Regions from separate parts of the Homo sapiens genome. Here all the other regions are linked to region 1. Evidence: fine-mapped expression QTL. A gene starts in region 1. Each other region holds a variant in brackets. All regions are shown on one strand. Distances are between the middles of the regions.

The links.
Region 2: its variant is fine-mapped to the expression of VAT1 in whole blood (TOPMed, PIP above 0.99).
Region 3: its variant is fine-mapped to the expression of VAT1 in whole blood (INTERVAL, PIP above 0.99).

What each region holds. Positions count from the first base shown.
Region 1 is chr17:43,017,569-43,028,619 of GRCh38, forward strand. It overlaps VAT1 (vesicle amine transport 1), which reads right to left and starts at 4,817. Exons shown (of 6, transcript NM_006373.4): 1 at 4,368-4,817; 2 at 1,024-1,231; 3 at 468-638; 4 at 273-362. The coding sequence starts at 4,754. It overlaps RND2 (Rho family GTPase 2), which reads left to right and starts at 7,663. Exons shown (of 5, transcript NM_005440.5): 1 at 7,663-7,881; 2 at 8,392-8,479; 3 at 9,615-9,724; 4 at 10,493-10,627; 5 at 10,864-11,051. The coding sequence starts at 7,780. RefSeq lists a silencer at 7,487-7,626.
Region 2 is chr17:42,125,147-42,135,474 of GRCh38, forward strand. RAB5C (RAB5C, member RAS oncogene family) reads right to left here. Exons shown (of 6, transcript NM_004583.4): 2 at 5,191-5,444; 3 at 3,503-3,654; 4 at 3,115-3,237; 5 at 1,609-1,702; 6 at 1-752. The coding sequence starts at 5,356. The coding sequence ends at 637. Among named protein-coding and RNA genes, the nearest start is that of HSPB9, 7.5 kb to the left of the region's middle. RefSeq lists enhancers at 8,107-8,156, 8,727-8,776. The variant AAGG/A (reference allele first, on the strand shown) is at 4,345.
Region 3 is chr17:43,376,730-43,387,780 of GRCh38, forward strand. It overlaps LINC00910 (long intergenic non-protein coding RNA 910), which reads right to left. Exons shown (of 6, transcript NR_027412.1): 2 at 4,544-4,931; 3 at 2,394-2,533; 4 at 942-1,084. It overlaps LOC124904007 (a long non-coding RNA gene), which reads left to right and starts at 3,021. Exons shown (of 2, transcript XR_007065762.1): 1 at 3,021-3,378; 2 at 4,343-4,439. It also overlaps the pseudogene RNU2-4P. RefSeq lists enhancers at 10,220-10,735, 10,736-11,051. The variant C/G (reference allele first, on the strand shown) is at 6,342.

The DNA.
Region 1 (11,051 bases):
CGAAACTCCATCTCAAAAAAAAAAAAAAAAAAAAAAGAATGTAGAATTTACTATCACTCATATGAAAAGTTGTGACAGAGAATGAAAAGAGCTGGTACCCAAGAGTCAGCAATCTGAATGCAGCATACAGGACCATTCCTAACCCTGATCGTCTACAGAGCACCTGAGTCCCTACCCCTTCTTCATTCAAAAGCCCTGGCCTCTATATCCCACCCCTTAGACCCTCCCTCCTGCCCTCACATGCTCTCTCCATCCCTGGCCCACTAACTCACCATAGGTGACGACTTTGCCCATGGGTTTCAGGAGGTTGTAGCCCTTGGCAGTATCTGACCCACCCAGAGGGTCCATGACAATGTCCACTCCTGTCATAGAGTAGGGGAACCCAAGAACAACATTAGGATCCACAGATCTGGAGCTCCCCTCCCTGTCCTGTGCCTCCCTACCCCCTCCCATATTATGCCCCCCACCTTTAGGGGAAATCTTCTTGATCTCATCCACGTAGTCAGTCGTGTGATAGTCGATGGGATGTGTGACCCCATTCTCCTTCAGTGCCTCGTGCTTGCTGGCCGAGGCCGTTCCGAACACTGTCACATTCTCCACTGTACGGCACAGCTGCACGGCAGCCATACCCACACCCCCTGCAGCAAGACACCCATAAGCAGGGGATATGGAGTTGCCCTGGCCACCAACCACTCCATTCTAGCCTCCCAGGGACTCAGCCTGTCACCTTCATTTTGCCTACGCTCATTTTAGGGCCGTGTCTAATTTCCATGACTGAGAAGTGGTGGGGAAGGTAGCTAGAGAGGTGGGGGTGTGGGGTGAGGGCACGTTGCTAAGGATAGCACACCAGACTAGACCTGGTGCCTGAATGTTACCACGGCAACTACACAGCAGAGGCCTCTGGGAGCCACAGGCCAAGGCAGCCTGGTGTTGCCATGACAACAACCCAGACAGGCTGCAGGGAAGGGGCCTGGAAGGAAATCTGGGTGGGGTAAGGGGTGATAAAGTGAGGGGACCTGTCACCTGCAGCCATGTGTACCAAGACGCTGTGGCCAGGCTGTAGGTTGCCGAAGTCAAAGAGGACCATGTAGGCTGTAATGTAATTGACGAGCAAGGCAGCAGCTTCCTCAAAGGTCATGGCCTCAGGAATCAGGAAGGTCTGGACCGAGGGCACAGTCACCTCTTCCTGCCACATCCCTGACCGGTTCAACACCATCACCCGGTCTCCTGCCTTGAAGAACAGAAGAGTATCATTCAGTCACTCATTCATTCACCCACAGGCTATTTACTGATTTCCCCCTAGGTACAAGGCTACCTTCTTCCAAATGAAGTAGCAGGAGAAGCAGCAATAGTCATGGTAATAATAATAATAATAACATCATCATCAACAACAATAACAACTCACCTTTACTGAGTGCTGACTGAGGGCCGAGCCCGATTTCAAGTGCTTTATATATAATGCTTAATTAACCCTTACATCAGTTCTTTGAGGCAGATACTATCCTTATCATCTTCTTACAGATCTTACATGTCACTATTGTGTAAGATCCCTGAATGCAAGAAGCTTACAGTTAGGGCAGCATGAAGTATTGTGGAAAAGATCAAACTGCTGTGGTTACAAAAGCGGTCTCAACTGTTTACTGACTGTGTGACTTCGGATGCATAAAAATTACTTAATCTTTTTGAGCTCCACTTTTCCAGCTCCAGTTTTCTTATCTGTCAATTAGGGCAGTTTTTCCAAATGGAAAAAAAAAATTTTAGCACAATGTCTGGCACATAATAAGCACTTAATAATGTTAGCTAACAATAATAATAATAATAATATAATAGCAGCAAGGAAGTCACACAACCAAAAGAAGACGGCACTGTGTGGTCAGGGCCATACCAAAGTGCAGGCAAAGTTCTCTGAGCGCTTACAGCAGGGTGTGGTCACCTCGGGAGAAGTGTGTTTGAGCCAGCACTGGGAGCCCAGAAAACATCTTCACTCAGAGATGGTGCAGGAGGGGCAACAGACAAGAAGGGCTACAGAGGCCTACGCAGCAGTAAAAGGCTTCCCCCCCACCCCCACGAGAGCCTCTGTGCAGGAGGGAAAGGGGACAAAGATAACAGAACCTTTCTCTCCAGCTTAGCAAGTGGGGTCAAGGGAAGGGCAGGGAAAAGGAGGGAGCGTCAGGAGAAAAGACTTCTCTGCGCTCTCTGAAGAGCATGAAGAGGGAGGTGTGGGTGCTGTTCTGGGACAATCTGGGTCTGTCTTGATCCCTGCCAGGAATGATGGGAATTCTGTATATTAACAAGAGTTAGGGTCCATGGGGAAGGGGGATGGGACTGCCACTTACGCCCTTTTTCATGTCCTCAAGCCCCCACACTCCACTGAATACGAGAACTGAGGGCATGCTGGGGTCTTTCCTTCCAAGTTCTGGCCTGAGATGAGGTCTGGAGAACAAGAACGGAAGCCCTCCACCCAGGGACTCAGGACTAGCAGATACAGAACAACCCAGGAGAGCTGCGAGGAGTGCATTGGTCATTTAGGGTCATGGCCAGTCCCAGATTTGACCCAGAACAAGTCTCACTTACCCTGGCTCATGCTAACCCTCAGGCCATCCAAATCAGGGCCATGACCCCTCCCCAACCCAGACACCAGGAAGGAGGAGGAGGGAGAGAGAGGGAAGGGCCCTCCCCGCAGAATCCAGGCTCTTACATCAGATTCTTGCCCTGGACAGGATATCCTGTATTTACCAGGCGGAAAGTGTATGGAGGGGAGGTGAGGTGGGTGGCCTTCAGCAGTAACATGAACTACAACTACCTCCCGAAAATATTCCTCTTAGACGCCTGCTCAAGAGTGGGATCATTTAGAAGTCAGTTTGAGGGTGGGGCCAGAGCTGAATTCAGAGGAAAGCCTTAAGGAGAAGCTGTTTGCATACAGGATGAATCCAACAAACCTGGCTCCAGAATTGGGCTGGCAGGTCTGCAAGAGGCTGCATCTGTGGGGCCTCTCATTGAGGGGTCTGATTTAAAAAGGAAACTCCTGGCCAAGCGCAGTGGCTTATGTCTGTAACCCCAGCACTTAGGGAGGCCGAGGTGGGCAGATCACCTGAGGTCGGGAGTTCGAGACCAGACTGACCGACATGGAGAAACCCATCTCTACTAAAATACAAAATTAGCCAGGCATGGTGGCGCATGCCTGTAATCCCAGCTACTCGAGAGGCTGAGGCAGGAGAATCGCTTGAACCCGGGAGGCAGAGGTTGCGGTGAGCCGAGATCGCGCCATTGCACTCCAGCCTGGGCAACAAGAGCGAAACTCCGTCTAAAAAAAAAAAAAAAAAAAAAGAAAAAGAAAAAAAAAAGAAACCTCTAAACAAATGGCGTGCTGAGGCCTCATCCCAGGTCTCTCAAAAAGCTGATCATTTTGAGCTCTCTGGTGTCCAGGGTTGTGGCCAAGATTAATGATAAATGAGAAGGAGAAACAGGCCTGCAGACTTGGCCAACCAGTTCAAGGCGCCGCACCTCTCCGTTCCAGTCCAAACCCCTGGCACTGGGGTTTCTGAAGTGGGGGTCCTCTGCAGGAGGAAGGCAGAGGTGGGTCCCCCCTTCCACTCCCCGCCCCAGGCATTCCCAAGGGCAGCCCCGGGTCGTGGCCCGAAGGCTGAGGGCTGAGTCACAGGAGGAGGAGATACTGCAGTCACGGGAGACACAGAGCCCAAGACAAAGATCGGATGACCCAATCCCGCCTCCCCCACCCCAAAATCAGATCGGCGGTGTAAGGCTGGTGGCGGTGGGGTAGCAAAGGCTCTCTCTCCTCCGTGATGGGCGTGTCTCGTCTCTTTGGCCTTGCTTTGGGAGGGGCCGCCTCACACCCCCACAGACCACGGGGCTGCATGTGACCAGGACTCTGGCACGGCCGCTGTGCCCCCGCCCAACCCCGACGACATAGCCCCTCAAGCTCCCTCGGGGAAAGGGGGCACTAACCGTCACTCATAGTCACAGACCACAATTACCCAGAGAGTGTTTGGTGGGTAGGGGTACAGGTGTGGTTTTAATGGGGGGGGGGGGGGGGGGTGGGGACGGTAGTGTGGTTGTGCGCATGCGCATGGGCACCTTATTGTTTTCCCCCCCACCAGCACAGCTTCTGGGCGGCGGCCACAACTAAAAATGGTTGGGGAAGGGGCGATAATTTCGTCTCCCCTCCCCACATAAATGCCGCTCTCCAGGAGCCCCCAAACACAAGTTCCTTGGCTACGCTTTCCACGCTCGTGCACCCAGGTCCGCGCCAGTTTCTCCCGCCCTGCCACACCCCCGGCGCTCGCCCACTCGTGCCCCACTGCCCAGTGGCCTGCGCAGCCCTGCCCTGCCCTACGCAACCCGCTCACCTTGCGGTCGCTGACTCCCTCGCCCACTGCGATCACAACACCCGCGCCCTCCATGCCCGGAGTGACAGGCAGAGGCGGGAGACGGTCGTACAGCCCCTGCCTAGCCATGAGGTCTGCGAAGTTGAGCCCGCAGGCCCGCAGACGCAGCGTCAGCTGGCCGGGCCCAGGGGCCGGGGGCGCTGCCGGCCGGCTCTGCAGCTTCACCTTGTCGTAGCCTCCAAAGCCGGTGAGCACTAGGCAGCGCAGCAGTGGCGGCGAGGCGGCGGCGGCGGCGGCCCCTTCGGAGGCCGCGGGATGCTGGGGGTCGCTCGCTGCCTCGGTTTTCGGAGGCGGCGAAGAGGCGTCTTCCCCGGTCGCTGCCTCGGCTACCTCTCTCTCGTCGGACATGGCTGGGACTCCCGACGAGAGCGCACAGCTGGATGGAGAGTGCACAGCTGGGGAAGGCGGAACGCGTCGGGAAGAGCCGCGGCTGCGGGATCCAGCGGGAGGGGCGGGGCGCCGGGCGAGGCGGGGCCTCGCGCTCAGCCTTAAAGGGCCAGGGCCATAGTGGCGCAAGCTGGGAGAGCACGAAAAGGGGCACCAGGAACGTCTGTGCTCTTGGGATCAAGCCGACTGTGATTTATTTATTCATAGTAAACCTTATTCAAATTAAAAACTATTTTAAGGGATAGGCCTGGCGCGGTGGCTCACGCCTGTAATCCCAGCACTTTGGGAGGCCGAGGCTGGTGGATCATTTGAGGTCAGGAGTTCAAGACCAGCCTGGCCAACATGGTGAAACCCCCGTCTTTACTAAAAATAAAAAAGTTAGCCGGGCGGTAGTGGCGCGCGCCTGTAATCTCAGCTACTTGGGAGGCTGAGGCAGAGGAATCGCTTGAGCCTGGGAGGCGGAGGTGAGCCGAGATCGCGCCACTACACTCCAGTCTGGGCAACAGAGTGAGACCCTGTTAAAAAAAAAAAAAAAAAGGGCCGGGCGGCGTGGCTCACGCCTGTAATCCCAACACTTTGGGAGGCCGAGGCGGGTGGGTGGATCACCTGAGGTCAGGAATTCGAGACCAGCCTGACCAGTATGGTGAAACCCCAGCTCTACTAAAACTACAAAAATTAGCCAGGCATGGTGGCAGGTGCCTATAGTCCCAGCTACTAGGGAGGCGGAGGCTGGAGAATTGCTTGAACCCAGGAGGCGGAGGTTGCAGTTAGCCAAGATCATGCCGCTGCACTCCAGCCTGGGCTACAGAGGGAGACTCCATCTCGAAAAAAAAAAAGGCCGGGCGCGGTGTCTCACGCCTGTAATCCCAGCACTTTGGGAGGCCGAGGCGGGCAGATTACGAGGTCAGGAGATTCACCTGGCTAACACGGTGAAACCCCGTCTCTACTAAAAAATACAAAAAATTAGCCAGGCGTGGTGGCAGGCGCCTGTAGTCCCAGCTACCTGGGAGGCTGAGGCAGGAGAATGGCATGAACCCAGGAGGCAGAGCTTGCAGTGAGTCGAGATCGCGCCACTGCACTCCAGCCTGGGCTACAGAGCGAGACTCCGTCTCAAAAAAAAAAAAAAAAAGTTAAGGAACAGTCCCAAAACTTGAACTTACATCAGATTTGGAGTTAACTCATATCAGATTTGGAGTCAGCCACCTGTGGACTGGAGTCCAACTACATTGTGTCTCAGGCTCTGACATCTAACCCAGGCAGGGATGAGACTTAATTCACTGTGGTCTTGCAGTGGCAAAGTAGAAGCATGGAGACCAAGCCTTTAAAACTTTCTGACTTTGGTGTTAACGTTCTGTTCCTCATTTTCCCTTCTGTAACATAGTGATGATGCTGCGTGCTCTAGTTATATTTATATTTTTATTTTTTTGATACAGGGTCTCACTCTGTCACCCAGGCTGAGCGAGGTGGGGCGATCACAGCTCCCTACAGCCTCAAACTCCCGGCTTCAAGCAATCCTCCCACCTCAGCCTCCTGAATAGCTGGGACCACAGGCATGTGTCACCACGCCCGGCTAACTTTATGTTTTACTGCTCTTTGCAGAGCAGGGCTACCCCATAGGCAGCGTGCCTAGAGTGGCCAAACCTAGCTAAGTTTTGATTTTTTTTTCTAGAGAGAGGGTCTCGCTAATGTTGCCCAGGATGGCCTCAAACTCCTGCACGCAAGCAAGCCTTGGCCTCCCAAAGTGCTGAGTTTACAGGCGTGAGCCACCGCGCCCAGCTTCTAGTTATCTTTACAGAATTATTTGCAGCATATATTATTGACTCGAATTGCCTCGATATAAAAAAGCACTTTTTTTTTTTCGAAACTCTATTGCACAAGCTGGAGTGCAGTGAGGCAATCTCGGCTCACTGCAAGCTCCGCCTCCCGGGTTCACGCCATTCTCCTGCCTCAGCCTCCTGAGTAGCTGGGATTACAGGCGCCCACCGTGCGGGTTTCACCGTGTTAGCCAGGATGATAGTCTCGATCTCCTGACCTCTTGATCCGCCCGCCTCGGCCTCCCAAAGTGCTGGTATTACAGGCGTGAGCCACCGCGCCCGGCCTATTGTCAGACTCTTAATCAAGCCTGACTTTTGGGTTTAGCTCTGGCTCCAGCAGAGCAACTCTGGCGGTTGGTTCTTTCTCTTCCTTATCTCCTTGTCCCCAAGCATCCACCAGAGGACGCAGCTCCCCCAAAACTTTCCACCCAGTGCTTGGCTGGAGGAACTCAGTCCACGCTTCTCTGCTAGTCTAGGCCGGCGGTTAAGTCAATGTAACCGGAGACCCGGCTGCCCGTTGCCATGGGGACGGAAAGCTATGATGTCACCACCGTCCGGGTGGGTGTGCTGGGGTTCACCCTCCCATTTCCCCAAGACCCCCTGCCAGGACATAGGCGGACGCGGGAGAGAAAACCAAAGAGGCTCCCTCCTTCCCCTTAGCATCTCTCTCCCGCCGTGTTCAGGAAGTGGATGGCTGCCCCAGCTCTTGTCCGCACTGGTACACCTGCGTGCACGCGTGGGTACACAGCAGGCCCGAGCTTCGCGCTTGTGCCGCTCATATTCTACCCCTAAGAACTTCGCTTGAACTCTGACCTGCCCTTATATCCGAGAAAGTCAAATAAGCCCAGTTCGGCCTGTCCCAAACCGGCAGGGGCCCCTCAGACCACACCGGCGGGCTGGACCCCGGCTCTGAGGCCTCTGTTCCCAGGGCTCCGCCCAGATCTTCTGGGCCCCGCCCCCCGGCTGCGGGGGTGGGAGGAGGGGCCGGGGGGGCGCGGCCGCCTGGCTGGGGGCGGGGCGGAGGGGGGGCCGCGGACCCGGGGCGGGGGCTCGGCGCGGGCCCGCGAGATGCCGGTGTTGGCGGCCCGAGCGGCTGCAGTTGCAGGGGCGGGGGAGGCGGCGGCGGGGCCCGGGAGAGGGGTGGCGTGGGGGACCGGCGCGTAGCCGGGACCATGGAGGGGCAGAGCGGCCGCTGCAAGATCGTGGTGGTGGGAGACGCAGAGTGCGGCAAGACGGCGCTGCTGCAGGTGTTCGCCAAGGACGCCTATCCCGGGGTGAGGGACCTGCGTCTTGGGAGGGGGACGCTAAGGCTGCTGGGGGGTGGGTGACAGGGGCCCTGGCGACGGATGGGAATGGGTACTCGGGTAACCAGGGACAAGAGACAGGGGGTCGGAGGACGCGGGGAGGCCTTGAGGGCTCAGGAAGGACTGCAGAGGATTGGGGTGGGAGGAATTAGGGAGCAGGGTGAGATAGATGGGGTTTGGGAGAACCAGAGCATCCGGGAGGGAGGGCGAGGGGAATGTCGGAGGTCCTGGGCAATGGAGAGGGGAAGAACTAGGGGGCTGAAGGGACCAGAAGGGAACAGGAGGAGGTCTGGGAGCTTAGCAGAGATTCTCCGGGGGGGGGGGGGGGGGGGCAGGAGCTCCCGGGATCTCCCCTTTGCCCAATCCCAGACCAACTTGTGTCCAGGGGCTGGGCTGGACGGGGTGTGGGAGTGAGGAGGGCATTTATCTGGGGTGAGGACTTGGAGAGATGATCTCATCTGGATCCATCCGTGTCTGCAGAGTTATGTCCCCACCGTGTTTGAGAACTACACTGCGAGCTTTGAGATCGACAAGCGCCGCATTGAGCTCAACATGTGGGACACTTCAGGTAGCCAAGTCCCTGGGGGTCACCCTGACTTCCAAGGCGGCCCACTCTGTCCCCTCCCTTGGTTAGACCCTTAGGTTCCAGGTAAGCCCAGCCCATCCATCCAATTCCAACAGGAAGGGAAAAATCAATATTCTGCTAAAATCCAGGGAAACTGAGGTAGAACTTGCAGAGCCTGACAGAAACCATGTCCTGAAGGAGAAAGCCTAGGATCTGAGCCCCTCAGCTGGGTCCTGCCTACCTGGGAAAGTTGGGAAGGAATGGCTTTTAATTTGGAACATGTTCCTTCAGAGATAAGACTGGGTTTAGAAAAGACATTTAGAGGCCAGGCACGGTGGCTCACGCCTGTAATCCTAGCACTTTGGGAGGCTGGGGTGGGGGGATCACCTGAGGTCAGGAGTTTGAGACCAGCCTGGCCAACATGGTTGAAACTCCGTCTCTACTAAAAATACAAAAATTAATCGGGCGTGTGGCACGTGCCTGTAATCTCAGCTACCAGGAGGCTGAGGCAAGAGAATCGCTGGAACCTGGGAGGCGGAGGCTGCAGTGAGCCGAGATCATGCCGCTGCACTCCAGCCTGAGCGATAGAGCGAGACTCCATCTCAAAAAATAAAAAAGCAGAAAAGACATTTAGAATGTCTTGAGTGAGGGGTGGTCAGGAGGCTGTTTCTCTCCATTGAACTAGATAAATCTGAGGTCAAGTCCCAGGAGAATGGGAGAGTGCTCTCCCTGCCACTGCTCTTTTCCTCCTCCCAACATAAGGAGGGTTTTTATTTTTACAAGAGTTCCCTTCAGGGCTTTAGACTGCCAAAGCCCAGAAAGCACATGCAACATTTTATGAGAATGTCTATAGATTTTATGAGCTTCTCAAAGGGGTCCAAACCTCAGTCAAGAATAAAAATTATTACTTTTTAAACCACTAGGGAAGCAGAGAGCCGTTTCCCACCATGTGACCTCCCTTCTGCCCGCTCCCCCACTTGGGAAACCCAGACTCCATGATGGGTATTAATGATGGGTATTAATGGTTGCTCTTTTCCATTCTCTGCTCCCAGCATCCCTTGACCAGGATCTGTAAGGTCTCCCATTCCCTTCCAGGCCTCCCATCCACTCAGGCCCCTCATGCCCTGTCTTCCTTCAGGTTCCTCTTACTATGATAATGTCCGGCCTCTGGCCTATCCTGATTCTGATGCTGTGCTCATCTGCTTCGACATTAGCCGACCAGAAACACTGGACAGTGTTCTCAAGAAGGTGGGAGCCTGGGGAAATAGGGCAGCTAGACTGAGGGGGACCAGACCACCATGGTCCTGACATAACATGGGCCAGGAGGAGGGAGTGATGGCTGGGGTATGGCCATCAGCTGGTTAGCGAGTGAAGCTCTCATCCCTGCCACCCCTGCCTCCAGCCCCCATCCCTCCCAGCCACCCCTTTCCTGAAAGTCCTCAGAGCTGGATACAGCAGCTAGGGGAGGTGGGGGAGTGAAGGGAGAAGCACTCACAGGATTCCTTCTCTGCTCTTCCAACTCCTTGGCAGTGGGAGTCCCAGATGGAGGGGATGGGATGGGAAGCCTGATCCTGGAGCTCAGGAAAGCCCTGTGGCCTCCTCTCCAGGCCCCAGTTTCCATGACAAAAGCCAGGGGTGAATGGACAGAAGTCAGCTAGGGCAGCCCCAGTTCCCAGGTGGGGGAGGGGAGGGTGGGATAAATTTGTTCCCAGGAGAGAGTATGGGAAAGGCGAGTGGGAATGGGAAGTTTCCAGGCTGGCAGACCCTTCATAGCCACTGAGGGAGAAGAGTCCACAGGCCCACGCCAGCCCTCTCCTCCCCGCTGCTTCTCTCTCACCCCATCCTGCTCTCAAACCAAGCCTAGCATTCTCACCTCCTTCCTCATGTGGGAGAGTCCTGAGGGATACATGGTTTCTGCGTGCTTGAGGAAGAGAGGGCACACTGCTGGCATGGCACAAAGGCTCACGCTGTGCCTCCCTCCACCCCTCCACAATTCTCTTTTCTTCTCCTACATAGTGGCAAGGAGAGACTCAAGAGTTCTGCCCCAATGCCAAGGTTGTGCTGGTTGGCTGTAAACTGGACATGCGGACTGACCTGGCCACACTGAGGGAGCTGTCCAAGCAGAGGCTTATCCCTGTTACACATGAGCAGGTGGGACCCTTGACGTCTGACCTCATCCCAGCCTAGACCTGTCACCTCTGCCCCTTCAGTCTCTGATTTGAAAACACCTTACCTGGCTCATCCTTTGTTCTGGTCTGTGACCTCTGACCTGATCCCTTGACTGCCCCCAGCCTTGACATTCAACCCCAGCCCACAGCCTCCATGCCCCTTTCTAAGCTGCAGGCTAAGACCTATAACTTTCTCCCATGCACTCCTTCCTTTTCCAGGGCACTGTGCTGGCCAAGCAGGTGGGGGCTGTGTCCTATGTTGAGTGCTCCTCCCGGTCCTCTGAGCGCAGCGTCAGGGATGTCTTCCATGTGGCTACAGTGGCCTCCCTTGGCCGTGGCCATAGGCAGCTGCGCCGAACTGACTCACGCCGGGGAATGCAGCGATCCGCTCAGCTGTCAGGACGGCC
Region 2 (10,328 bases), 890 kb before region 1:
AGAGCCAGAGGTTGGGGTGACCGAGGGTGGAGGGGTTGTGGGCAATGGGTTCGTGGCTGTCACAATAATGCTGTGATAATGCTGTGGTTTCCCAGCAGGGAGGTGGGAGCGGGGAGGGGGCTGCAGCCTGATGAGAGCCAGCTGAAGGAAGAGCTGCCTCTCCCTTCCTAAGCCCCTTCCCAAGGTCTGCCCCACCGCCCAAACCAAAGACCACTCCGAACAAAGTGAGGATGTGGATGCTCTTGCTGGGTCCGCTGTTCCGCAGGAGGGAAAGAAAGGGTAGCTGCACTGACCCCACTGTCCCCATATACAAGGGTTGGGGGGCAAGAGCATGTGGCTACTCCCAGCAAGGGAAAATGGGAGAGCAGTAGAAAGGGGAGGAAGTGGGAAGAGCAGAAGATCATATATATTAAAAAAGTGACTTAAGACTTAAAATTGAATTAGTATTTGTACAGAAAGGTGCAGGTGGAATGACTCACTCCGGCCTATGATCAAAATTATATGGAGAAATCATGGTGGACCCCTCCCCCTGCCCCCCCAGTGGTGGCCCGAGTCGTTAAGTGCGATTGGTTAGAGTGGATTCCAGTCGGGTCATTCAGGCGGAGGAGGCGGGGGCAGCGGGCAGGCAAGGGGGGCTCAGTTGCTGCAGCACTGGCTCCGGCTGGCTGGGTTGTTCTCCTGGAGGTCCACACCTCGGTTTCGGCCTGGAGCACCAGTTGCATTCTGGGGCTCGTTCTTGGGAAGCTTCTTAGCTGTTTGGGAGGGGGAAAAGTGCATTTGTTGGGGGTACCCCAATAACTCTCCCAGTTCCACTGGAGCAGATTCTGGCCTTTATACCCAATCAGTGGTAACTCACATATTGAGGGCTTCTGTGTGTCAGGTGCATTCTGATTGTTTTCAGGAAACTGCGGCAAAGTAAGGTTAAATAACTTGCCCAAGACTACAGAGCTAATGAGTGGTAGAGCCAGGATCTGCAACCCAGGAAGGAAGATTCCAGAGCCAAATGAGCTAAAAACTCCTAGGCAGTGGGTAGGGGTAGTGATGGCAGGCTCTGAAATGGGTGGCAGGCTACAGGCTCAGAGAGTGAAATGTTGAGACTCTGGCCCAGGCTTCAGGAACTTCTCGGGTGAACAACCAACATCTACATCTGGGAGTCAGGTGATGATGAAAACAATTTTATCAGAAGGTTAAAAGTGGTGAAGGGGGCTGGGCGCAGTGGCTTACGCTCGTAATCCCAGCACTTTGGGAGGCCGAGGCGGGTGGATCACGAGGTCAGGAGATCGAGACCATCCTGGCTAACACCGTGAAACCCCGTCTCTACCAAAAATACAAAAAATTAGCTGGGAGTGGTGGTGGGCACCAGTAGTCCCAGCTGCTCGAGAGGCTGAGGCAGGAGAATGGCGTGAACCTGGGGGGCGGAGCTTGCAGTGAGTCGAGATCGTGCCACTGAACTCCAGCCTGGGTGATAGAGCGAGACTCCATCTCAAAAAAAAAAAAAAAAAAAAAAAAAAAGAGTGGTGAAGGGACCCCGCAGGCCCACTCTAGACCAGCAGACAGGTGATATGCCCTTGCTGTGGTGGAGAGAGGAGGGGAGGAGAAGCAACTGACCTATTGCCATGAAGATTTCGTTCACGTTCATTGCAGTCTTTGCTGATGTCTCCATGAACAGCAAACTGTTGTCGTCTGCATAGGCTTGTGCTTCCTGGTTTGGATGGAGGTGAGAGGAGGTGAGAGGGAAATGTTGGCAGGGGCCAGGGCCCAGGGCCCAGGATACAAACCTTCCTTATTCGAGCACCTTATCATAATAGAGATCAGCTGGACACACACAGGAGTTTTCAGGCCTAAGGCTGCCCTGATCTGGGTTTCCCCGCTCATGTATATCACCTCTCAGCTCACAATCACTAGCAGATGTCTTACCCGGGTTTCCCCAGGTCCACCCTGCCTTCTTGCTCTTCAAAATCACTAGGCTAGGAAATACTTCTAGAAAGTTAACCTACAAATACACTTACATGTTTGCACAAAAGCACAAAAGTATGTGGATGTCTACTGCAGCACTGTTTTCAGTCTTTTGCTATTATTAGGGATTGGTAAAAAATTATCATATACAGTATGTATAGCACACTGCCATCAATGTAAAGAAAGGGATTAAAAAACACGTGCATATTTCTGGAAGGACAAGAAACTGGGGAAATTAGAAGAAGAGAAGTTGAGTTTCTAGGGTTAGCAGAGACTTAAGTATTTCTTTCTCAATAAGTTTAATTAAAAAGTCAACTTACAAGAAAAGAGAAGTAGAAGGCTAGTGATCCATATATACACATACCCCTACCACCAAAGAAAGAGAACCAGGGAGAGACAGGTGACGGGCAATTCCTTTTAGGCCCATGCTTTTTTTATTCTTTTCTTTTTTTTTTTTTTGAGACAGGATCTCACTGTGTTGCCCAGGCTGGAGTGCAGTGGCACGATCACTGCTCACTGCAGCCTCAATCTCCTGGCCTCTAATGATCCTCCCCACCTCGGCCTCCTGAGTAGCACACCACCATGCCCAGCTAACTTTTGTATTTTTTTAGACATGGGGTTTCGCCACATTGCCCATGCTGGTCTCGAACTCCTAAGCTCAAGTGATCTCCCGCCTCAGCCTGCAGAGTATTGGGATTACAGGTGTGTGCCACCACACCTGGCTGTTTTTTTTTTTTTTTTAAAGAGATGGGGCCTCACTCTTGCTCAGGCTGGAGTGCAGTGTTGCAATCACTGCAATCTTAAACTCCTGGGCTCAAACAATCCTCGTGCCTCAGCCTCCTGAGCAGCTGAGACTACAGGTGCGTGCCACCAAGCCCAGCTAATTTTTAAATCTTTTGCAGAGACAGAGTCTTACTGTGTCGCCTAGGCTGGTCTCGAACTCCTGGCCTCAAGTGATCCTCCCACTCCAGCCTCCCAAGGCACTGGGATTACAGACAGGAGCCATGTTAGGCCCATGCCTGAGGCACGAGAGGACAGCAGATGGAAGCTTCCCTGTTGCCTCCTAGCATGGCCCTTCCCAAAGCCCCTGAGCATCCCAGGCGAGGCCGGGGGGAGCTGCTTACTCCACTCCTTCCCCCAAGTCTGTCATCTCCCCACCTGGAATTCCACGGCTCTCTTGCTGGCCAGGTCTGCCTTGTTACCCGCGAGTGCAATGACGATGTTGGGGCTGGCCTGCCTCTGTAGCTCCTTCACCCAGTTCTTGGCCCGTGCAAATGTATCCTGAGGAGACAGGGACAGAATGTCGAAGGGACAGAGAAGGCATTCTGCCCAGGGCCACCCATTAGAGACTCTCAAGCTGGCACAGCCAAATTATCTAAGACATTGCCACCTAAAGATTCTGATGCAATGTCCCCAAACAGGAAATCTGCCCACCCCCCACCCAGGAACAGAGGGTTAAGCGGCCTGAAATCAGGGCTCTGATAACCCAATCCCTGGGACTTTGAGAAGATGAAGGGCAAAGGAAGAAGCAAGGGGAAATCTTTACTGTGTTGGTGATGTCATAGACCACGATGGCAGCCTGGGCCCCCCGATAGTACATGGGGGCCAGGCTGTGATACCGCTCCTGTCCAGCTGTGTCCCAGATCTCAAACTTGACTGTTGTGTCATCCAGGCAGACAGTCTGTGTGAGGAAGGCCGCTGTAAGAGAGAAGGAGCGTCCATGGGCAAGAGCGAGTTGGAATCCACCCCACACAATCCCACTGTTGCTTCTAGGCTCTGGCACTCAGAAGCCCACCACTGAGATGGGCACAGAGAACCCTCAAGCCAGGAGCCAAAGCAGGCCTGAGTGGGGGGTGGAGTTTGGATTTTTATGTATGTGTCTGGGGGACGGGGTCTGCACAGGCTTTGCAGACCCAGCCCAGGCAACGGCAGGAGAAGGGACTCCTGCATGCACTGAGCCATCTCAGGACCACTCTCTGAAGAGCAACACAGCAGGGGCAAGAGAGGGAAAGCCTAGGGGAAGCCTACTCCAAGCACAGAAGGGTGAGCGCCCTCAGACCTCCTCCTCCGCCACTCAGAGAACAGACCAGCAGCTAGGGACCGCTCCACCCCTCAGTTTGCTCCAGCCCAGGGGTGTCACTGACCTTGGGTTTCCTAAGGACATTCTCACACACTTAGCTATGCTGGGGAAGTACACACTGTTCCACCACCAGGCTGAGGCTGGGTGGCCGGCTTCCCAACCACCCCTACCACCTCCAGGCACTCCAGCTAGCCACCGCCCCTAGCTCTGACCCAGACCTGTTCCTGTATGGCCACCCTGTGACCTGACCTTCAGTCACTAAGAGGTGACTCCTTAGGGGAATGCAGGGTGCCTGTACACATGCTTCA[AAGG/A]AGGAGTCCAGAGCTGGGACAGACAGCAAAAGGCCCCTTTGCCCCTGGACCCAGCAGAGAACCCAGGACAGCCATGTGTAGAAGGCTGCTTTCCTGGTCTGCCCTCCCCCAGCTCACTGAGGGACATGGGGCACTGCCTCACTTCCCCTCTCCAGCTCCTGACCCAAATGCTGAGGAGGCAGCAGGGAGACTGCTGACATGGCCCATTTTGTTTCCAGCTGCCTAGAAACCTCCTACCAAGAGAGTAGAGAAAGGATGACTCAAGGCCAAGGCCAGCGTTGGCCCCTGCCTCTTGATGTGTGTGTTAGCCACGGAGGCAAGAGGCCGAGGCCAGACCCTCACTCACATCCTAAATGCTGACCACTGGAAAATCAACAACAGGCTGTGAGCTCCAGAAAGGGTAAAGTCAGCTTCAGAAACACCCACCTATCACCCAGCTCCGACTCACCAGGCTGTTCCTTCTTCTGGAAGTGGGAAAGGCCAGGGCACATGGACCACCCATTATAGTAAGAAGGGGCCTCAAAGATCCAGAGTCAGCTCTCCCTCCATGAGGCCAGGGCAGTGAAAGGGCCTCAGCCAAGGCCACACAGATCAAGAAGGGGCAGAAACAGGATGGGAAGCTAGCTTTCCACTCCCAGCAAATGCTTACTAGCGATGCTTGAGGGGACTCTGGCATGGAGACCAGTTGCTGGGCTCAATTCCAGGGCCCAGGTGAGGAAGTGGGGCTGCCACCACAGACGCATTTAGTCCCTAATGCAGGCAGGCAGCTTCCCATCTCCTCAAGGTCAAAGCATTTCTTTGGCAACCTTCAGGCCCCTCCCCGACTCCCTCATGCCCACTCACCTCCAATTGTGCTCTCCTGGTACTCGTGAAACTGTCCCTTGACAAAGCGGAGGACGAGGCTGGATTTGCCTACCGCAGACTCCCCCAGCAGAACCAGCTTAAATTGACAGATCTTGTTCCCAGCAGCTGGTCCATTGGGTCGTGCTGCGCCTCCCCGACCCGCCATTGCCCGTCCAGCTGTAGTGGTCCAGAGAGCGTGCGGGTGGGGACTGGTGCTATGCAAAGAGGCACTTAGTGGGGAGGGGGACCTCCAACTGTAAGGGAGAAATGAGAAGTACTGAGTTAGTTCAGAGGCCGTCACCCGCTGTGTCCTTCTTAAATTACAGATCTTTCCCTCTGGCCTCACTGAAGACCTAGCTGACTGCTTCCCCTCACCTCACCTCCCTGCCCTCCCCACTAGAGGTCAGGAGGCCCCACTGGGCTATACTAGATGTCTACCGGCTCTACCACCATCTGAGCTGTAAAGAGGAGAATGGTCTCCCAACTTCAGGCTCATGGTTCTGAGCAAACACATTGACTTCTGGATCCCAAATATGTACATTCACCTACAAATAAACACACACAGGCGATGAATGAATGTGTGACAGCCTGGTGACAGTTAAGTCAACAGGCTTTTGGGGCAAAATTAAAACAAAACAAAACAAAACAAAAGCTCAGGAAGACACTAGGATTTAGATCAATAATGAAGTTCCAGTCTGGTAGCCAGGACCACAGTGGTGAGGCAGACAGGGGCCCAAGAGGTCCTGGTAGAAAGCTCCTCAGAGAAGGTGCTTGGCCAACCTCATGGCCATTCAGGGACCAGGGCCTGGCCAGCACAAGTTGTTATTAACATAGCCATTTTTCTCCTGCCACCTTCAGAAGGACTGACCGACTTTCAGTCTAGGGCTGGACTGTGTGCCTCTGTGCACCAGAATCAAAGCAATGTTTCACTCTCTCATCCTGATCCTTCTTCCCTAGTTCTCTCATTTTTGATGGGCCAAAGTCTCGCACCCATTAAAAAACAAAACACACACAGAAACAAACACATAGTAAAACACACACCGATACACACACACAAACACACACAGAAACACACACACCGGAACAAATACACACTGAAACACACACACACACACACAAAAACACATGCCAACACACACACAGAAATACACACCAAAACAGACACCAAAACAAAACACACACCGAAACAAACACACACAGAAACACACACCAAAGTCATAGCTCTGCCACAGTCAGCACAGCTACCAACTTTCCCTTTTTCAATAGAGACCTCAGTTCCATTCTCTACTGGCAGAGATGGGGCGATGGAGAGAAAGAAGAGGCAGGAGGTGTGGGAGGGCAGAGACCAAGTCCTGCATCCCCAACAGCTGGTGTTCCAGTCCCGACATCTGAATCACTTGGTTAGTGACAGCTTCAGAGGCTCAACTTTTTGTTTTTGTTAAGTTTTGGAATTGCAGACACATGAGGAGCCTATCTCTAGAAGCCTCTAGAAGACATAAGTGGATGTCTCATCAGACATATACATCTGATGTCAACAGACATCAGAATATATACAGAATGTTTTACAAACAGGTCCTGTGAGTAGGTATTAAGTACTGAACACTGTTCAGCATTTGAACCTGGGTTGGAAAGAAAAGGTTTTTATTAGGCTGCCCTTTGCATAATGGAGTCTAAGATCCCAGGGAGAGCCCCGATCTGCCCCTGAGCAAGGGAAGTACATTCCCTCATGGTTAAGGGACAGCAATGTGGATGAACAGGAGGTATCTGTGGGAAGCAAATGGTCCACATTCATGCAAGAAGCTGACAGCAAAGGGCTTGTTTTGTTCAACCTCAAATCGTTTTCCACATCCAAGTTCTCCCAGCAACTCATTTAAAAAGTGAGCTTCAGGAAGAATGATTCACTAGCCAGAAACAACAGTTTCCTTTCTGGAGAGAACCAAAGGAAAAGAGGTTTGAAATGGGGCCCACCTCTTCCCCAAAAGTACAAGGAAGGAAGTACGGGGTGGTGGGTCTCAATTAGCAACCAGAAATACCATGTAAATATTTCAAAGTTATGTCATTTCAATTTTTCATAGTTTAAGACGCTTTCTCATTTCACCTCAGTCAATGAAGAGACAAGGTCTGTGCTTTCTGCTTCTTAGAGATGCCTTCCTCACAGTGCCTATGTGCATACTAGGAACTCAAAGAGTGCTGATGGAAGGAAATAATTTTTTTTTTTAAAGAAACAAGGTCTCACTGTGTTGCCCAGGCTAGAGTGCAGCGGTGTGATCACAGCTCACTGCAGCTTCCAAGATCCTACTGCCTCAGCCTCCAGCAGGTATACACCACCACACCCAGCTAATTAAAATTTTCTTTCTTTCTTTCTTTCTTTTTTTTTTGCAGAGATGGAGTCTCACTGTGTTGCCCAGGCTGGTCTCCAACTCCTGGCCTCAAGCAACCCTCCCGCCTCAGCTTCCCAATTGCACAACTATTATCTCCTTCAAGCTTTACGACAACCTCCATTTTTCAGATAGATAATTTAACATTCATATATTAAATGTCCTGCTCATGGTCACCCAGCCTACAGGTGACAGAACCCCCCAGACCCACCATAGACATGATGCCATCCTCCCTGCTGTGGAAGAACAATGGAGGCAGTGCCTGCCCTATGTTTGGTTTAGGGCTGCTAGGTGAATGAAACTCTCTTTTTTTGTGGCAGCAACTTTGCTGGTCCAGGAAGGTCTAGCTCTAGCTGGCTCTAGCAACAGTCACAGTAATCTTGCAGTTTCTGAGTGCCCTCAACAGTGGGAGGAGCCGCCCAGAGCCAGGCAGGGCGACAGCAACAGAGGGAAAACCACAGTGGAATTACAAGTTGGTTATTACCATGAATCCACGTGACACAGAGTCTTGGCTGAGCAATGGTCTGTGGCTGGGGCACTGGAGGAGGAGGTATGAATGGACTGGGAGATGGTAATAGAAAACCAAGTCTCTGATTCCAAAAAAACCAAAGCAGCTGGTGCTTAGGGTACCGAGCTGGGAAGTAACCAGCACCTACAGGTCGAGAAAAATACAGGTAACAGATCTAAGTCTTGTCACTACCAAACCACAGGGTTAGAGGAACAGAATGTGATTTTTAAAAACAAGCCAGAAGGGGAGACAAATAACTCTCCTGCAGTGGTTCTCAACGGTGTCTGTACATTGAAGTCATCTGTGCAGCCAGCCCCTCGAGATTCTCATGAAGGTTTGGCACAGAGCCCAGCATCTGCAGGTGAAGCACACCCACTGAAGCACAGCCAGGGCTAGAGCATCTGGCAGAGAGAGAGTGAGCACAGGCACTGGCTTTCGGCACCACAGATGTGACTGTCTCCTGCCACTTCTGAATCACTTTGTAGAAGCCACCTGAGCTGAGCCTCAGTGTTCTCATCACTAATATGGGGCACACCAGGGTTAATGGCAGTGTTTGCCAGCTGTCTCACACACATCATGTTGAGTAAACAGTAGCTAAGAGTACTGACAGGGTTATTTGTAACACTTTCTCCAAGACTGTTGGTGAACAGACTCTGGCCATCCCAATGAACTGAGACAGGCTCTCCCTGGCATGAACTAGCTGGTGACATGTTCTGCCTGGTCACTGATCCTGCCTTCCAGAGATACCTGAGCAGGCACACCCAGCACTTTTTACGGTCTGTTGCCTAGTGGTTTGCCTGGCCCTGCTTGGTGATCAAATGAGCAGTGGTGTCCAACCTTTGCAGTCAATAAAGCCCAAGGAAGCCAATTTTGCTAGGAAGGGCGCACGGAGATATGAGGGTGTCTAAGCCAGGGGAAGGCCAGACCGAGAGCCCCAGGAAGCATTATACCCTCTCCTCCCAAGCCTGGGAAACTGAAGACATGGCAGGTAGTAAAGGTGAATGCATTCACTGAGCTGTCCTGCCTCCCAGGGATGTGTGTCTTACTGGCAATCTTTCTTTTTGAACCCCTGGCAAAAATTATCCACTTGTGCAGTCAGGTGATGGAATTATAGCCAAAACTGACATAGTTTTCAAAGTCTTCTTTGAGACAAAAATCAAATTCTCCATAAGAGCTAAAGTTACAGTCAAAGTTGATTTTTTTAAATTAGCCAACGTGGTGGTACACGCCTGTAATCCCAGCTACTTGGGAGGCTGAGGCACAAGAATTGCCTGAACCCAGGAAGCAGAGATTGCAGTGAGCTGAGATCGCGCCATTGCACTCCAGCTTGGGGCAAAAGAGTAAGACTCTGTCTCAAAAAAAAGTTGACTTTTTTTCACAAGTACAATGGCCGTGCTGGAGCTTCAGATCTAGGGAGAAAGATTCTCCTTGCCATGGACCCACCATCCAAATCAGAACCCTGGCTTGTTCAGAGGCCACTAAGAACAAGCACCAGTCCCAACCTCATGTCTTCCACAGGAAAGGGGAGAGAATGTATAAGGACTTGGAGTCACACTATTTTCCTATTAATACAATGCACATGAAAGCGCAGAAGGGATCTAAGCTCCTAAACACCCTGGCCCTGTGCACAGGCACTTCTGGGCCAAGGATGGAAGAGAAAGAGAAAGAAAAATGGGACACTGTTCTTCCCTGCTCCGGGGTTCCCTCTGCTCTGGACACTACAGGTCAGTGGGTCTCAAATTCTTTTTTTTTCTTAAGTTTTTTTTTTTTTTTTTTGAGACAGAATCTCGCTCTCTCACCCAGGCTGGAGTGCAGTGGCACGATCTCTGCTTACTGCAACCTCTGCCACCCAGGCTCAAGCGATTCTAATGCCTCAGCTTCTAGGAGTAGCTGGAACTATAGGTATACGTCATTACACCCGGCTAAATTTTTGTGTATTTTTTGTAGCGGCGGGGTTTTACCACGCTGGCCAGGCTGGTATCAAACTCCTGCCTCAACCTCCAAAAGTGCTGGGATTACAGGTGTGAGCCACCTGTAATTTTTTTTTTTTTTTTTTGGAGATAGAGTCTCACTGTTGCCCAGGCTAGAGCAGTGATGCAATCACGATTCACTGCAGCCTTGACCTCCCAGGCTCAAGTGATCCTTCTATTTCAGCCTCCAGTCAAACTCTTCTTCACCAGAATCACCCAGGGCCTTTAGAAAATACCCTGACCAACTGAATTAGAATCTCTAGAGGTGGAGTCCAGAAATCA
Region 3 (11,051 bases), 360 kb after region 1:
AGGCTATGCTCAGGAATGAATAAGGACAATTTGGAGGTTAGAAGCAAGATTGGGTCGGTTAAGTTAGATCTCTTTCACTGTCTCAGTCATAATTTTGCAAAAGCGGTTTCACAAGCAGTCAATACCAGGAGCCTCTGAAGACCACCATAGCAGTCCTCAGTGCCAGGCAAATCCACTAAAATAGAAACACCAGGCTTTGCCAAGAAGGGAAAACAAAAAGAAAAACAAAACAACTTTATCGCACATTTCATTAGAATTTCAGGGACAGGCTGGGTGTGGTGGCTCACAACTGTAATCCCAGCAATTTGGGAGGCCCAGGTGGGTAGATCACTTTGAGGCCAGGAGATCAAGACCAGCCTGGCCAATATGTCGAAACCCATCTCTACTATAAATACAAAACATTAGCCAGACATGGTGGCACGCACCTGTGATCCTAGATACTCCAGAGGCTGAGGCACAAGAATCACTTGAACCTGGGAGGCAGAGGTTGCAGTGAGTTGAGATTGCATCACTGCACTCCAGCCTGGGTGAGAGAGAGAGACTCGAATTTCCATGGACAGGCATTCATGTTCAGGAGAAGGGGGGTCTGGGCACTGGAGTTGGAGGAAAGAGCCTCAGTAAAGGTACAGAAACGTTAAGCACAGGGCAATCAGAAAATGAGGGGACCGGTTCATACATCTATGACCCATCCAGCCACCTGGGAAGGTAGGATCTGGGCCTTAGCCTGTCCCAGAGAATGCAGTAATGCCCTGTCCCAGAGAATGCAGGCTCCACGTGGGCTCCTTCCTACTGTAATTGCCCCCATTACACCCACATCCATCCCCTCACAGACTGGTTTATGTGCCAGACTCAGCCAGCGGGTGGAGCTTCTCCCGGGAAGCCACACCTCCACCTCCCCAACACGCAGCACCCCAGCCTCGCTCTGACAGGCTCTTCCTTACATCATGGCAGTTTTTCATCAGGGAACCACTGTCTCCACAAGCCAAATGCTGTTGTAGGCCAATCAGACTCTGAAATCCATGCACCTTTGTTAGCAGGTCATCGTGGAGGATGCACCCATCGAAGGTGGCCTTCCACCCCCGTCCTATAAAAAGAAGGCCACTTCAGCAAATAGAATAAAGAGTCTGACAATGTCTTTTTTTTTTTTTTTTTTTTTTTAACTTTCTTGTTATGGACCAATCAGTAACCATGATCACGACCACATTTGAGAATCAGGGCTCTTTGCAGCTGGGGCAATACTTCTGGATCGGGAGCAACTTATCATGGAGGACCTGGTATTAGAGGACACGTTGACAACATAGAATAATACAGGCAAGTACGATCAAGGCATTAAAAGTCCTCACATCAAGATGGACATGGCCTTCTCCCAGTCCATTCCACATACAGCATTTATTTGGCCGGCACTGCTGTCTATTTCTTCAAGAATGCATTTTCTCCTAATCATTCCATTTCAAACAGAGCCACGGCTTTAAATGCTTAGGTTAATTTCAAAAGAGGTGAGTCCCTTTCAGCATCTCATGGGGCATACTGTATCTCCTTTCTTTCTTTCTGTTTTATTTTATTTTATTTTATTTTTTTGAGACAGAGTTTCACTCTCGTTGCCCAGGCTGGAGTGCAATGGCGCGATCTCAGCTCACCGCAACCTCTGCCTCCTGAGTTCAAGCGATTCTCCTGCCTCAGCCTCCTGAGTAGCTGGGATTACAGGCATGTGCCACCACGCCTGGCTAATTTTGTATTTTTAGTAGAGACAGGGTTTCTCCATTTTGGTCAGGCTGGTCTCAAACTCCTGACCTCAGGTGATCCACCTGCTTCAGCCTCCCAAGGTGCTGGGATTACAGGCGTGAGCCACCGCACCCGGCCTGTATCTCCTTTCAAAAAGAGCTGCTGTCCTTGTCCACTTTGGGAAGCCAAGGAGGGCGGATCACCTGAGGACAGGAGTTCTAGGCCAGCCTGGCCAACATGGTGAAACACTGTCTCTACTAAAAATACAAAAATTAATTTACAATGAGCTGATGGACCCACCCGGGGTCAAGACAGTGACCAAGCGAAATGGGCGTGGGCGTCACGAGGTGTCTGCGGAAGGAAGTTGGAGGAGAGTGGTCCGAGCTCTTTTGAGGAAAGCCATTACTGTGAAGAGCGGAGCTTCAGCGGTCTGGCTGGGTCGGAGGCGAAAGCGGAGCCCATGAGCCCCCTCTCCCCCACTGGGGGGGGACTTCCCGGGGCCGCAGAGAGAAGTCCGACTGCGACTGCGAGATCGCGCCCTGAGGGGGCTGCCGCCCTGGGAGTCACAGCCCCGCCCCTCTCCCTGCCCTGTCAGTGGGGACTGGGGACAAACTACTTAACCTTCGGACTCTCAGTTTCCCCAGCTGGGAAGTGGAAACACCACTGCCTACCTCGTGGGGTGGAGGGAGCAGAAACGGAGCCGAGGGCGCGACCGCGGCTCAGTAGTCTGGAATGTGGGTCCCAGTATCCGACTAGCTTCCCCCGAAGGGGTCTTGGCTGTGATACCGAAGCACCTGAGCAACTGCGTTGCCTGCGGACAATACAATAGGAAGCATTTACTGTTTGGCCTAGGCTGTGTGCTAAGTGCTCTCGTCATTACAAACTCGCAAAGGTTACCTACAGAAGGAAACCTTGAGATGGAGGTTAAGCAGCTTAGGCAACAGAGCAAGACCCAGTTTCTACCAAAAAAAAAAATTTTTTTTTAATTATTATTATTATTTTTTTTAAACGGAGACTCGCTCTGTTGCCAAGGCTAGAGTGCTGGAGTGCAATGGCACAATCTTGGCGCACTGCAACCTCCACCTCCAAGGTTCGGGGTAGTCTCCTGCCTCAGCCCCCCGAGTAGCTGGGATTAGATCTTTTAGCAAGTTGGGCAGATGACTCATGCCTGTAATCCCAGCACTTTGGGAGGCCGAGGCAGGTGGATCACCTGAGATCGGGAGTTCGAGACCAGCCTGACACCAACATGGAGAAACCCCGTCTCTACTAAAAATACAAAATTAGCCAGGTGTGGTGGCGCATGCCTATAATCCCAGCTACTAGGGAGGCTGAGGCAGGAGAATCGCTTGAACACCCCTTCTCTGGTCTCATGGAAAAATGGTTTGGAAATGGAAGGGACTCATGACCTCAATCTTTACCTCCCTTGCAATTATTACCAGTGTACTCATTCTTGTAGGTTGTGTCATACCTTGCATTTGTGGATTTGTGCAAAGGCTTATAGAAACAGCTCTTACCAAACCCCTCTCCATTCTCCCCCACCCTACTCAGATAAACTCCTACTTCTAGAAACCAAGAGGAGCAACAAAGCCAAAATATATTAGAGGAATTTGAAGAGGAAGAACTATAAAGTCAGGAGGGGGAAAATTGCCAGAAACAGTAAGTTCCTCTTCAAAGTTTCCTTGGTCTTTCTTGCTCTATACGCAGCCCTTCCTGCTTAATCAGGAAGGAGCACTTGTTTCTCTGTTTAATGGGTAACTAGCAAACCTCTTACTTGGTAAACAACCCTTCCCGCCTAGTTGGTAATGGACAGCCTCTCCCTTCCTGCCTAATTGGCCTTATTCAATTTCAAGCACTAGTCAATTGGGTCAGCTTAGACTGTGCTGTCCAACTCCAGCAAATGGGGAAAGGACACAGAAACAGAAACTGTGTTAGGGATAAAAACCCCTGCTCTACCCGGCTTGATGTGCTCTTGGGATCAGTCAGACGCAAGCTGTACCCTTCTGCAGAAGTAAATGTGCCTTGCTGAGAAATTCTTTGTTTAAGTGGTGGTTTTTCTTTGCAGCACTGAACACTTGTTTCTAACACCTGGGGGGCAGAGGTTGTGGTGAGCCGAGATCTTGCCATTGCCCTCCAGCCTGGCGCCATGGCTCACATGGGAGGCTGAGACAGGCAGATCACTTGAGCACAGAAGTTCGAGATCAGCCTGGGCAACATTGGCAAAACCCTGTCTCTACAAAAAATACAAAAACTAGCTGGGCATGGTGGTTCAGGCTTGTCATCCCAGCTACTTGTGAGGCTGAGGTGGGAGGATAACTTGAGTCCAGTAGGCAGAGGTTACAGTGAGCTGGGATCATGCCATTGCATTCCAGCCTGGGTGACAGCCAGACTCTGTCTCAAAAAAGAAAAAGAAAAAGAAAAAAAAGTGGTGGAATCTCTTACACCAGTAAGGGGGTGTACCTTTTTGCATGCTTAAGATCTTCTATTTTCTTTTCTATGAGCTGACTGCTCAGATCCTTTCCCCATTGGCCTTTTTGAATTGTTGATCCTTTGTATTTGCATCCCTAACCTACTTGTTCTAGTCTATGATTTCAGTTACACATCCAACTTTTGTTTTTTTAAGATGGCTAACCAGTTGCCTCAGCATCATATATGGAGCAGCCCACCTTTTCATCAGTCTGAGATGCCACTTTTATCATATAATAAAGGCCTCATATATACTTAGGTCTATTTCTGAAACTTTCTTTTAAACAAAAGAGCCTTCTGGTATCATGGCTGTTTTTTAAACTTTTGATTGATTGTGTACCTACCTTTGTATACCTACCTTTGTGTACCTGTGAACGTGGCCTTGTCCGTGTGGTTAGCAAGGAGCATGTGTTCCATTCCTCCTCTGGCTGCCCTTCAACACCATCCACTGCTCACAATGCTGCCAGGGAAGCCTGGGCACCTCCAGAGGTGCCAACCTGACCATGCCAAGGCTGCCAACTCCAGGTGCTTCTAAGGTTTTCAGTCCTTGGGCACCAGGAGGCTGCCAGGTTTCCTGCCAGCTGAGGAGAGCAGCCTATTCAACTATTCAACCTATGCAACTCCAGGTCCTGCTATTTCTGTTTTTCTTGGCCCTGATTGCACTTCAGTTTTCGCCCTGTCTTCTGGAATGGCTCCTTCAAATTCCCCTTTTCATCACATCAGTTTTCACAGGTAGTTGAAGAGATCTGCTTGGAGAGAGATACCATTTGTTTCCCTATTTTCCTTTGCCTCCTCTCTGACTCCTTCCACCACCCCTGCCCCCTGCCCAGCCCCACCATTCTTTTCTCTCCCGCCTGGGCCTCTTCACAGTTACCAACCAAAAACTTTCACTTATAGCAACAGAAACAGAACTGTGCCAATCTGTGTGGCCTTGGTGGGGGAAGGGAGATTGTTTGGCTGCAGCAGCCAGCAAAGTTAGTGTTCCATATGGCTCCTTTTTTTGTTTCTGTTTTTTTTTTGGGGGGGGGCGGAATTTCGCTCTTGTTCCCCAGGCTGGAGTGCAATGGCATGATCTCGGCTCACCACAACCTTCGCCTCCTGAGTTCAAGCGATTCTCCTGCCTCAGCCTCCCTAGTAGCTGGGATTACAGGCATGTGCCACCACGCCTGGCTAATTTTGTATTTTTAGTAGAGACGAGGTTTCTCCATGTTGGTCAGGCTGGTCTCGAACTCCCGACCTCATGTGATCTGCCTGCCTCGGCCTCCCAAAGTGCTGGGATTACAGGCATGAGCCACTGCACCTGGCTGTTTTTTTGTTTTTTTGATACACAGTCTCACTTTGCCATCCTGGCTGGAATGCAGTGAAGAGATCACGGCTCACTGCAGCCTTGACCTCCCAGGCTCAAGCAATCCTCCTGCCTCATCCTCCCAAGTAGCTGGGACCACAGGCGCGCATCACCACAACTGGCTAATTTTTTTTGAGACGAAGTCTTGCTCTGTCACCCAGGCTGGAGTGCAGTGACACAATCTCAGCTCACTGCAACCTCTGCCTCTCGGGTTCAAGCGATTCTCTTGCCTCAACCTCCCAAGTAGCTGGCACTACAGGTGTGCGTGTCCAGGTAATTTTTGTGTTTTTAGTAGAGACAGGGTTTCACCATGTTGGCCAGGCTAGTCTTGAACTCCTGACCTCAAGTGATCCACCTGCCTTGGCCTTCCAAAATTCTGGGATTACAAGTGTGAGCCACCACGCCCAGCCACCTGGCTAATTTTTGTTAATTTTTTTTTTTTTTTTGGTAGAGATGAGGTCTACCTATGTTGCCATGGGTGGTCTCAAACTCCTCCTCAAGCGATCCTCCCCCCTCGGCCTCCCAAAGTGCTGGGATTGCAGGCATGAGCCATTGCGCCAAGCCCATATGCCCCTTTAAAAAAAAGATATTTAGTAGAAATGGAGCATCTTGCTACAGTCTTGCTGCTCACAGTGTGGTCCCCAAACCAGCACCATTGATATCATCTGGGGGTGGGTTAGAAGTGCAGAATCACTGGCTCCAGACCTATTGCGTCAGAACCTGCATGTTAACAAGGTTCCCCCAGAATGCACATGCACATCAGAGTTTGGGAAGCATTCTGCTCTGGGACTTGATGACTGAAGGAGGGAGG[C/G]TGAGGGAGAGAGAAGAAGCAAATATGTTTTTTGAGACCTCAATTCTCACTACCAATATCTGAAACTTGGGGACCACATGGATTTGGATAACAAGTGATACAGTTATAACTCCAGATGTCTACGCTGGTGGCTGAGTGGGTCTTAGAACACTTTCTGGGGTTATAAAATACAGAATCAGCAAGTTGAGGCAGAAAGGCCTGAAGGGAGATGGCAAATCCGTGTGAGCAAGGCTAAGTCTAAAGACCCATGGGCCAGGGGTGCTTACTGAGAACAGAGTACGTGGCACCATTAGGGGCAGAGGATGGAAGCAAGCACATATGAAACTAGGCATGGTGGCATGCTCCTGTAGTCCCAGCTACTCAGGAGGCTGAGGTGGAGGGTCACTTGAGCTGGGGAGGTCGAGGTTGTGAGCCATGGTCATGCCACTGCCCTCCACCACGGGCCACAGAGCGAGACTTGAAAAAAAAAAGAAAGAGAGAGAGAGGGAGAGAGAGAGAGAGAGAGAGAGGGAGAGAGAGAGAGAGGGAGAGAGAGAAAGAAAGAAAAAAAGAAAGAAAAAGAAAAAGAGAAAAAGAAAGAGAAAGAGAGAAAGAGTTGAAAATCTTGGAGGCCTTTGAAAACATAGAGAGACTGGACTTCTGTTTCTATGATCAGGGTGAGGTATACAGGTGGTCCCCAGTAGCCATGGACTGGGAGAGATGACACGGAGATACTACTTTGTGTAAGAGAAGAGTACATGTTTCAGAATCACAGGAACACCAATGTGTAATGAGCAGGCAGGCCGAGAGAAATGACAACGTATGTCCTTATAAAGACTTAGAGGCAAATGTTTAGAGCAGAATTATTCGAATAGCTTTGAACTGAAAACTACTCAAACGTCCATCAGTGGGTGAACGGATAAACAAAATGTGATATTCAGGAATAAAAACATAATGGTACAACATAATGGCACATGTCACAATGGGGATGAACCTCAGAAACATTATGCTCAGAGAAAGACATCAGTCAGACACAAAAGACCACATACTGTGTAATTCCTTTCATATGAAATGCCAGGAACGGGAACTCTAGACATAAAGTAGATCAGTGGTTAACTCAAGATGAGGGTGGGAGTGGGCAATGACTGTGTAGGGGAGGCAAAACTTTATCTCCTTAGGGTCCTTGCTGGGCCTGAGACTCAAACTGACATAGATTAGCAGGAGGAAAGCTATCATAAAAGCTGTCAATGTAAGTTTTACATGACACGGGAGCCCTCACAAGGAAATGAAAACCCAAGGCCACGATCATATATGTGCATTTGTTCTGGTTATTTTCTGCCTCCCCTTCCACTTGCCATTCTTCTCTCCCCTGCTCTTTTGTACTGCATAGAGCTGCATAAGGGTCGTGAGCCAAACAGCACTCCCTCTTGCTGCAGCTGGTCACAGGGCTGCCCCTGCTACTCATCCTGTGCCTCATGGGCAACATGTTATGCCCATGTCCAAGGTACAGAGAAGTGGACCCAGAGCCAGGGAGAGGTGATAGGGACCTTTGGGCGGGGTGGGAGGTGCTTATTGAGAACAGAGTCCATGTCACCATTAGGGAGAGAGCATGGAAGCAAGCACGTTTGACAATCCTGTGTCTGCCCTGTTTCTGGAGAGGCAGATGCAGACAGCAGGTCAGAGGGAATTTGACTGGACAGGAACTTGGGGGGTTGAGGGTAGCCATTGCATATAACCAAACCTGTTACACATTTCTTTGATATCTGATGTCATTGTGACATGATCTAGAAACCTCTGTCAAAATAGTTCCTAATGATACTAAACAACAACTGAGACTGTTTATTGAGTTTGTGAAATCAAGGAGTGGCTGCTCTTCTAGAAGCAGTGAGTTGATGTCTGTTCTAACATTGTTCTGAGACAAGGAAACCTTTTTATACTTTAATAGCCAGGGTCAGAATTTCTCAGATTGTATATTTGCATGTAGCACAGGAGATGCTCTTTTAATAAAAATCCAGAAATTTGTTGTGCACATTATTCAATAGAGAACAATATCAAATTAAACCAACAACAATGACACTTAACATTTGCCCAAAGCTTGGTAAATGTTGATGGTCACTGTGTACCTTCAGATAGCTGTGTACTCTAACAGAGAGAATGATTTCAAAATCAGTTGAAGAGAAAACGCCTCTGCCTGCCTGTACCTGTATATTACTGTCAATGTCAATCAGGAATGTGTGGGTTCATTCCAGTTATTTTCCGGCTCCCAATCTACTTGCCATTCTTTCATCTCCTGCTCTTTTGTACTGCATAGAGCTACAGAAAGTTAGTGAGTCAAACGACAGCCCCTCTTGGTGCATTTGGTCACAAGGCTGCCCCTGGTACTCAACCAGTGCCTCCTGTCCTCTCCCCTCCAAATCCCCCCTCCTTCTCAGCTATCAACTCTGTTAATCCTGGTGGTTTCCCTGGCTACCGTGACCCAAACTCTCATTCCTGAAAAGTCTAAACCCCTCAAGGCCACATCTTTCTCAAGTCAGGGTTCCTGCACTTGTCCATTCATGTCACAGGTGGACCTGGGAGTAACACGTGGCACCCAAACAGATCACCAGAGTTCACATATATTCCACCTGCCCTCCCTGCATAAGAGCACTACTCCCTCTTCCTGATGATGGTTCAGGGCCATTAATCCCTGCCAAGATGGTGACTGCTCCTGCCTGCTAGTTCAACCTGTCCAGCCACAGCTGTAGCTTGAAGGCTTGAAGTTCAATGGGACCCACTTCTGCTTCCACGCTTTCTTTCCTTTAATTTTAATTTTTATTTATTTGAGACAGGGTCTGGCTCTGTCACCAAGGCTGGAGTGCAGTGGTGCAATCACGGCTCACTGGAGCATCCACCTCCCAGACTCAACTGATCCTCCTGCCTCAGCCTCTGAAATAGCTGTTGTACAGATATTCGTCACCCTGAACAGGGCTTCACTACCTTGCCTAGGCTGTTTCTTTTGTGCTTTGTTTGTTCGTTCGTTTGTTTCGAGATGGGGCTCTGGCTTTGCCGCCTAGGCTGGAGTGTAATGGCGTGATCTCACCTCACTGTGGCCTCCTGGGCTCAAGCCATCCTCCCACCTGGGCCTCCCAAAGTGCTGGGATTACAGGCATGAGCCACAGTGCCCGGACTGAAGATATCCTTTAGAGAAAGAAGCAGCGGGTAGTTTTGCCAAGGCCAGACAAGATTTCTGGAGTTTGGAAAGGGTGAGAGATTGGGTCAGCAAAAGACACATTCTGATCTTTATGCTGGGATGCAATTTATAGATACAGGGATGAGACCCAAAAAAGCTGGGAGAGATTTGTCATCATGGTTGCAAGGCAACTGCCGGTGGCTGATCCCGTAAAGGATACACATACCTAGAACAGAGCCTAAAAAAGCATCAAGCATGAAGGGTGGAGCCACGATGCTTGGACTCGAGTTCTGCTCCTGTGCATTCCTCGGTAACTTAAACTACCTGTGCCTCGATTTTTCCTGGGGAAAAAAGGAAGTTTGTAGCCAGTACATTGGTGCCTGCCTTAAAGTAGAACTACTCCATGGGCTGAAGAGGAAGTTCAGCTGGGCGTAGTGGCTCACACCTGTAATCCCAGCAATCTGGGAGGCCCAGGCAGGTGGATCACCTGAGGTCAGGAGTTCGAGACCAGCCTGGTCAACATGGTGAAACCCCGTTTCTACTAAAAATACAAAAATTAGCTGGGCATGGTGGCGGGTGCCTGTAATCCCAGATACTCGGGAGGCTGAGGCAGGAGCATTGCCTGAACTCGGGAGGCAGAGGTTGCAGTGAGCCGAGATGGTGCCGTTGCACTCCAGCCTGGGTACCAAGAGCTAAACTCCATCTCAAAAACAAAAAACAAACAAACAAACAGAGTAAGTTGAAGTCCAGCCTGGGCAACACACCACTGGAATCCATCCCTTTGAAAGGTCATCACCCCTCCACAGCCAAGCTGAGATTTAAAGCCCTCCAAGTAAAGTCGAACATGTTCCCTACTTGGAAATGAATATTCTTGTTTTGGGTCCTAGGATACTCTCCATAAATCATGAACCTTATGATACTTAAAGGAGTAAGAAAACCTACCAACTATCCTAAACTACCCGGCGCAGTCTTTTCTTTCTAACCTTGCAAACAGGTTGTATCCCAGGAGAGGGAGCCCCATTCCTGGAGGTACTGCAATACCAGGTCGACGCGTGGAGTGGACAGAGCAAGCTCCTATTTCATCTCCCTGCTCCAAAAATCTATCTAATATAATTGTTCTCTGATAGAGGACGTATCAGATATTAAACTGATAAGAACAGATACTACACTTGATCTTAGCCAAAAGGACGAGAAGAGATGTCGTCGCCTTCCTCCCTGCCATCACCGTCCCACTCTCATCTACATTCAAGACGCGGTGAGAGCCCCAGCCTCGCTCCTTGCCTCATTCACTTTGTCTTGTCCACACCAATATTGACGCCATTACACACTCGGGCTGATTTCTTATTCTCCACGTTTTAAAAGAAAAATCTGCCGGGCGCAGTGGCTCACGCCAGTAATCCTAACACTTTGGGAGGCCGAGGCGGGTGGATCACAAGGTCAGGAGATCAAGACCATTCTGGCAAACACGGAGAAATCCCGTCTCGACTCAGGAGCTCGAGACCAGCCTGGGGAACACGGTGAAACCCCATCTCTACTAAAAATACAAAAAAATTAGCCGGGCG